Homo sapiens: one gene and its partner. The protein of the gene in region 2 interacts with the protein of the main gene of each other region in a pairwise test. Each region holds a gene or a part of one and is shown on either strand. Other genes may lie near its edges.

Region 1 (3,749 bases), on a different chromosome or scaffold from region 2:
TTGGTGTAAGTGACAGCACATGCTTCTGAGTTTTCTCATTCGTCTCTGGCTGCTCTTTCTCAAATCTTCTTCAAGATTTTGTCCTCAGTCCTCTTATTTTCCACCTTTATATGGTTCCACTGGGCAATCATGTTCATTCCCATGGGTGCCTACTTAACACTGCTGACTCCTAAATCTCATCTCTAGCTGCTGCCCAGACTTGCCTCCTGGGATCGAGGAGAGTATATCTGTCTAATCAACATCTCTGCTTGGATTCCCATCTATCCTCAAAATTTATCCCAAACCAAACGTTTTATCTTTATCTCTCTTGCCTTCCCTACTGAATTATGCCGATTTAAAACTTTTAAAGTCGGCCGGGCGTAGTGGCTCACGCCTTTAACCCCAGCACTTTGGGAGGCCAAGGAGGGTGGATCACCTGAGGTCAGGAGTTCGAGACCAGCCTCGCCAACATGGCAGAACCCCGTCTCTACTAAAAATACGAAAAAATTAGCTGGGCATGGTGGCGCACGCCTGTAATCCCAGCTACTCTGGAGGGTAAGGAAGGAGAAATAGCTTGAACCCGGGAGGCGGAAGTTGCAGTGAGCTGAGATCACACCATTGCACTCCAGCCTGGGCAACAAGAGCAAAACTCCGTCTCAGGAAAAAAAACTTTAAAGTCATTCACATTCGTCTGCTTCGTTCCATTCTCACCACCTATGCACTGGTCCAGTACCATTTCTTAAAAAGATGACAACATCTTCCAGCTCCAACCCTCTTCTCCAAACCTAGCCAGAGATCTTTGCAACATGCACATCTCGCCATGTCACTCCTCTGCTTACATGAGCTATTGTCGGCAACGGGATTACAGTGGCTTAGGAGTCAGACACACTTGGGTTTCAGTCTTAACACCATAACTTATTGGCTGCAAAACCGTGGGTGAGTTAATTTCTCTATATCTTAGTTTTCTCATTTGAAAAAAAAAAAAAAAAGAGCCACGAAGAGCACCTCCCACAGGTCTCCCCCAGGGTTGAGACCATACACACCATGTCCTTGGTTCAGAGTCAGGCACATTTGAACTGTTTAATACATTTTAACTGCTATTTTTATTAAACCCTTTCAATCGAGGCAAATCAACCTCTTTCATCCTAAAATGTGGGGATTAGATGGAATGACTTTAATCAACTCTTTTGAGACAAGACACCTTTGGACCCTGAAGCCTCCCTGGGTGCTGGCCACCCCTCCGGGGAGGAGGCATCCGTGGGTGCAGCTGGTACTCCTGCATGAGGACCCAGAGGGTCAGGGTCGGGGACTCCTTCTGCTGCAGGACAGCGCTGACCCCAGGCTTCTTACCCGCCCCCGACCTGTTACCCGGCGACAGTCCCCGCCGCCCCGTCGCCGGGCACAGACTCAGCCGATCCACAGCCATGAGTGCGAAGCCTCTCAGGCAGGGCAGGCAGGCAAACCGCAAACCCACAGGGCGCACCCAGCCCCGCCGCTTCCTCCCGGGCCTCGCCCGCAGCTGGAGGAGAGAGGAAGGAGGAGGCGGCGGGCAGCGGGCAGCGCCCACCCCATCCCACCCCATCCCACCCCACCCGACCCCGCGGGCCCGGCCGCCCGAGCCCGGCCCCAGCCCTGACCCCGGAGTCCCGGTCGCTCACCTTGAAGGACATCCTGCACATGTCCGCGGCCGCCCGAGCGGGAGCCGGCGCGCTTTGGGCCCGGGGCGCCTTGTCCTCCCCGGCCCTTCACTCTCCCGGGGCTCTCGGCGTTCCGCAGAGGGGCGGCCTCCGACGCCGCGCGCTCCCGCCGCCCGGCCCGGCAGCAGCCGCCGCACACAGGGCCGGGCCGAAGGGGCGGCGCGGGGGCGCGCGCGCGCGCACACTACACATGGGGTGTCGCGTGGACGCGCTCCAGGACCTGCCACACACGCGCGTGCACAAACACCCCAAACTCCGCACGCACTGTGCACTTTCCACACACGTCCACACTTCCACACTCACTCGTCCACACACACACTCCAAACTCCACACACATTGTGCATACGCTCCACATTCCACACACACAGAGGTTCCACACACATACTTTCCACACTCACGCCCACTCACCCGCATGTACTCACACACAAACTCCATACATATCCTCCCAAATAGACTGGTCTGCCCCAGAGGACTCCCAACCTTCATTACAGCACAAATATTATAATGATGTAAAAATGAAGCTTGAGGAAAAAATTCATCCAATAGCTATTTTCGTTATAATTTCTTTCTCGGTTTCCTGGGAAACTTTTTTCTCCTGGGGAAAATATCTAGGAAACAAACCTTTTGATTGCACAAACAATAAGTGGTCTTTTCCTCTTTGAAGGGCAAAGGCCAATTTTGGAATAGACTCATACCCCTCCTCCTCCTCCGCGTTATTAATCCAGCAGTTCCCTCCTCCTCTGGGTCTGATGCTGCAGCCCTGGAGTATTGCAGTATGTGTGTCCACTCCTGCTGCCTGCCCAGGATTGGTTTGGGCGAAGTAAAACTGGGAGTTTTAAGTATAAACGGCAACAACAGCTCTTTGAGAGCATTTTAGAAAAGTGAAAGTAAAAAAGTAGCCCAGGCATAGTGGCTCACGCCTATAATCCCAACTCTTTGGGAGGCCAAAGGCGGGCAGATCACTTGAGTCCAGGAGTTCGAGATCAGACTGGCCAACATGGCAAAACTCTATCTCTACTAAAAATACAAAAATTAGCCAGGCGTGGTGGTGCGCACCTGTAGTCCCAGCTACTCGGGAGGCTGAGGTGGGAGGATCGCTTGAACCTGGGAGGTTGAGGCTGCAGTGAGCCAAGATTCGGTCACTGCACTCCAGCCTGGGCAACAGAGCAAGACTCTGCCTCAAAAATAAAAATAAAAACAAAACAAAAAAATAGTATAAAAATGGAGGTCTTACCCCCTCAAACTATAAGAATCCACTCATTCATTCTCCCCCTCCTTCCCTCTTCTCAATTAAATTTGTAACGAATATTTAATTTAAAAGGTAGAAAACAATTACAAATAAAAGTTAATGATAAAAATTAAAATGTTTAACCTTCATGGATAAATTGTATTACTTTGTGCTTAAAACAACTTTAAATTAAAAACATTCTGAACTTTTATAGAAAATTCCAATTTTAAAAATAAGGACTCTAAACATTTTCCTTGCCTTGAGTGCCTATAAATGACACAGTTTTTAAGTTGCCACACAACGTTATTATATAAAAATCAAGCATCAGAGGTTTTGCTTTAATAGTTTTTTGTTTGTTTGTTTGTTTTTTCTTCTCAGATGGAGTTTCGCTCTTTTGCCCAGGCTGAAGTGAAGTGGCATGATCCTGGCTCACTGCAACCTCCACCCCCCGGGTTCAAGCAATTCTCCTGCCTCAGCCTCTCGAGTAGCTGGTATTATAGGCTCCTGTCACCGTGCCCAGCTAATTTTTGTATTTTTAGTAGAGACAGGGTTTCGCCATGTTGGCCAGGCTGGTCTCGAACTACTGACCTCAGGTGATCCACCTGGTTCGGCCTCCCAAGGTGCTAGGATTACAAACGTGAGCCACCGCGCCTGGTCTGCTTTAATAGTTTTGATAAATAAAAGGGAGAAAGGAAAGAACTAATATTTTGAGTGTTTTCTAGGTACAAGGTGCTTTCCTTATAAACATTTTATGGGGTGAGTATTAACCCATTCCACGGATGAAAAAACTAAGATTCTGAGAGATTGGAGTAATTTGCTAATAAGTGATAGGGCTAGGTGTTTGT
Region 2 (3,749 bases):
AATTTAGAGCCCTCAAAACTCTTGTTACATTCCTGCTTCAGAGATTTCAGCAATCTGCTCACTGTTACTGGGGGAAAATTAAAAAGCTTAATACTCTCTCAGTGTGTAATATTTTACGCATTCATGAACACATACTTATTCTAACTTCTGACTTTTAACCACATTTAATTAATTGATCATAATAATGGTATTTGGCCCTCTTAATGACCATTGCCAAGAGAGCTATGCTACCAGAAACAAATTAAAATGTTCCACTAGGGCCGGGCACGGTAGCTCACACCTGTAATCCCAGCACTTTGGGAGGCCAAGGCAGGTGGATCACCTGAGGTCAGAAATTCGAGACCAGCCTGGCCAACATGGTGAAACCCCGTCTCTACTAAAAATAAAAAAATTAGCTCAGCATGGTGGCGCGTGCCTGTTAACACCAGCTACTTGGGAAGCTGAGGCAGGAGAATCACTTGAACCCAGGAGGCAGAGGTTGTAGTAAGCCAAGATCGCACTATTGCACTCCAGCCTGGGCAACAAGGCTGAAACTCAGTCTCACTCCAGCAAAAAAAAAAATTAGCCGGACGTGGTGGCAGGAGCCCATATTCCCAGCTACTCAGGTGGCTGAGGCACAAGAATCGCTTGAACCGGGGAGGTGGAAGTTGCAGTGAGTAGAGATCGTGCCACCACACTCCAGCCTGGGTGACAGAGCAAGACTCTGTTCTCAAAAAAAAAAAAAAAAAAAAAAGGTTATATTATAAATAAAAATTGCACTTCCTGCCGGGCACGGTGGCTCACGCCTGTAATCGCAGCACTTTGGGAGGCCGAGGCGGGTGGATCACGAGGTCAGGAGTTCGAGATCAGCCTGGCCAATATGGTGAAACCCCGTCTCTACTAAAAATACAAAAAAAATTAGCTGGGTATGGTGGTTAACTACTCGGGAGGCTGAGGCAGAAGAATCCTTGAACCCAGGAAGCAGAGGTTGCAGTGAGCCAAGATCGCGCCACTGCACTCCAGCCTGGGCAACAGAGCAAGACTCCGTCTCAAAAAGAAAAAAAGAAAAGTAAAAAAAAAAAATCACACTTCCTATCCCACTGACAGTAACTTCATTGAAAACAGGAATTTCACAGGAAACTTCAAAACAGCACCATAAAAGTATAATGTTTTCCTAAAGCATTTTAGGAGCTTTATCCAAACATCAAAGAGATAAACATAAGTTAAATAATATTAAGTGGGATAACTGTTATTTCACATGTTTACATATTGTAACAATAGTCCAGATCATTTAAACTCACTTCAGCCATGTGAAACAACACACATGATGTTTCTACAGTGCTCTATGAAAGAAGTGTACATTTAATAAGATTTTCAAGATGTTTGGCCTGTACTATGAAACTTCTTTTTATAGAGACAGGGTATCACTCTGTCACTCAGGCTGTAGTGCAGTGGCTTGATCACAGCTCACTGCAGCCTGGAACTCCTAGGCTCAAGCGATTCTCCCACTTTGGCCTCCCAAAGCACTGGTATTATAGGCATGAGCCACTGCACCAGCCTGAAACTCTTGGTTTTAGTGTGATCACTTTTTTTTTTTTTTTTTTGAGATAGAGTCTCACTCTGTTGCCCAAGCTGGAGTGCAGTGGCACAATCTCGGCTCATTGCAATTTCCGCCTCCCGGGATCAAGAGATTCTTGTGCCTCAGACTCCCGAGTAGCTGAGATCACAGGCGCACATCACCATGCCTGGCTAAGTTTTTTGCATTTTAGTAGAGACGGAGTTTTGCCATCTTGATCCAGGCTGGTCTCAAACTCCTGGCCTTAAGTGATCTGCCCACCTCAGCCTCCCAAAGTGTTGGGATTACAGGTGTGAGCCACCGCACCCAGCCTATGGTGTGATAACTTTACTGATGGGCTAAGAAGCCACTCACTTGGTACCATTTCTATTCTGAGTCACAGGTGTTAGGTTTACACAGGTATTTCCTACATTTGAGGGATAGGTCATCTCTGCTAGAGATGTTTCCTCTGCAGCCAATAAAAACCCACATGCCAGAAATTAAGCTCACACAGTCAAGACTGAAATTCTATGTCTCTAGCCAAAGACTCACATAAGTAAACAGAATTTTAGTTCTATATGTAGACATCACAATGAGTAAGTACTGATATCATTTTTTTTTTTTTTGAGATGGAGTCTCGCTCTGTCGCTCAGGCTGGAGTGCAGTGGCACAATCTCGGCTCACTGCAAGCTCCGCCTCCCGGGTTCACGCCATTCTCCTGCCTCAGCCTCCTGAGTAACTGAGACTACAGGCGCCTGCAACCATGCCCGGCTAATTTTTTGTATTTTTATTAGAGATGGGGTTTTACCATGTTAGCCAGGATGGTCTGGATCTCGTGACCTCATGATCCACCCGCCTCAGCTTCCCAAAGTGCTGGGATTACAGGCGTGAGCCACCGTGTGCGGCTGATAACATTTTTTTCACTGAAAACCAGCAACAAAAAATCAAAGAAATCAATGAGTTATTCTTATCAAATCAGTTAAGTACTCATTAAACACTTGTGTGCTCAATTGGGGTTGAGAAAGCAAAGAGAGAAATGAATGCAGAATTCCTGTTTACAAATTAGCCAGGTCAGACATCCTTATAGAAAGAAACAACTAGGAAATGAGTATACATTCACGTCAAGCATCTTTTTTTTTTTTTTTTTTTTGAGACGGAGTCTGGCTCTGTCGCCCAGGCTGGAGTGCAGTGGCGCCATCTCGGCTCACTGCAAGTTCCACCTCCCAGGTTCACGCCATTCTCCTGCCTCAGCCTCCCGAGTAGCTGGGACTACAGGCGCCTGCCACCATGCCCAGCTAATTTTTTGTATTTTTAGTAGAGACAGGGTTTCACCGTGTTAGCCAGGATGGTCTTGATCTCCTGACCTCGTGATCCGCCTGCCTCAGCCTCCCAAAGTACTGGGATTACAGGCGTGAGCCACTGCGCCCGGCTATCTTTTTTTTTTTTTTGTAGAGATGCAGTCTTGCTATTTTGCCCAGGCTGGTCTCCAACCCCTGACCTCAAGCAATCCTCCCACTTTGGCCTCCCAAAGTGCGAGGATTACAGGCGTGAGCCACCATTTCAAACATCTAATAAGCAGAAAAAATTAAAATACAAGATAGCAGTAATTAGCTGGGCGTGGTGGCGCGCGCCTATCTATGGTCAGTCCCAGCTACTCAGAAGGCTGAGGCACACAAATCGCTTGAATCCAGGAGGCAGAGGTTGCAGTGGCCAAGATCATGCCACTGCACTCCAGCCCAGTCACAGATCAAGACTCCGTCTTAAAAAAAAAAAAAAGAAAAGAAAAGAAAAGAAAAAAGCAAATAATCAAGCACTACACTGAAAACATTTATCCTTATCAGCTACATAGCAGCCTGTGTGTAAGAGTTACATAAAATTCCATTTTAGGGCCGGGTGCAGTGGCTCATGTTTGTAATCCCAACACTTTGGGAGGCCGAGGCTAGAGAATCACTTGAGGCCAGGGGTTGGAGAGCACCCTGGGAAACATACAAGGATTCCATCTCTACAAAAAAATTTAGCCCAAGTGTGGTGGCTCACACCTGTAATCCCAGCACTTTGGAATGCCGAGGAGGGCGGATCACGAGGTCAGGAGATTGAGACCATCCTGGCTGACACAGTGAAACCACATCTCTACTAAAAATAGAAAAAATTAGCCAGGCATGGTGGCGGGCATCTGTAGTCCCAGCTATTCAGGAGGCTGAGGCAGGAGAATGGC

Evidence for each region. The genes of interacting proteins can lie anywhere in the genome.
Region 1: the proteins of RABGEF1 (region 2) and ANKRD29 interact in binary tests that used the Homo sapiens proteins (3 or more experiments, as listed by UniProt).

What each region holds. Positions count from the first base shown.
Region 1 is NC_000018.10:23,661,073-23,664,821, forward strand, and holds the start of ANKRD29 (ankyrin repeat domain-containing protein 29), read right to left. Parts: upstream 1,840-3,749; 5' UTR 1,659-1,839; coding exon 1,638-1,658; intron 1-1,637.
Region 2 is NC_000007.14:66,743,603-66,747,351, reverse strand, and holds part of RABGEF1 (rab5 GDP/GTP exchange factor), read right to left. Parts: intron 1-3,749. UniProt on the Homo sapiens protein: Rab effector protein acting as linker between gamma-adaptin, RAB4A or RAB5A. Involved in endocytic membrane fusion and membrane trafficking of recycling endosomes. Stimulates nucleotide exchange on RAB5A. Can act as a ubiquitin ligase.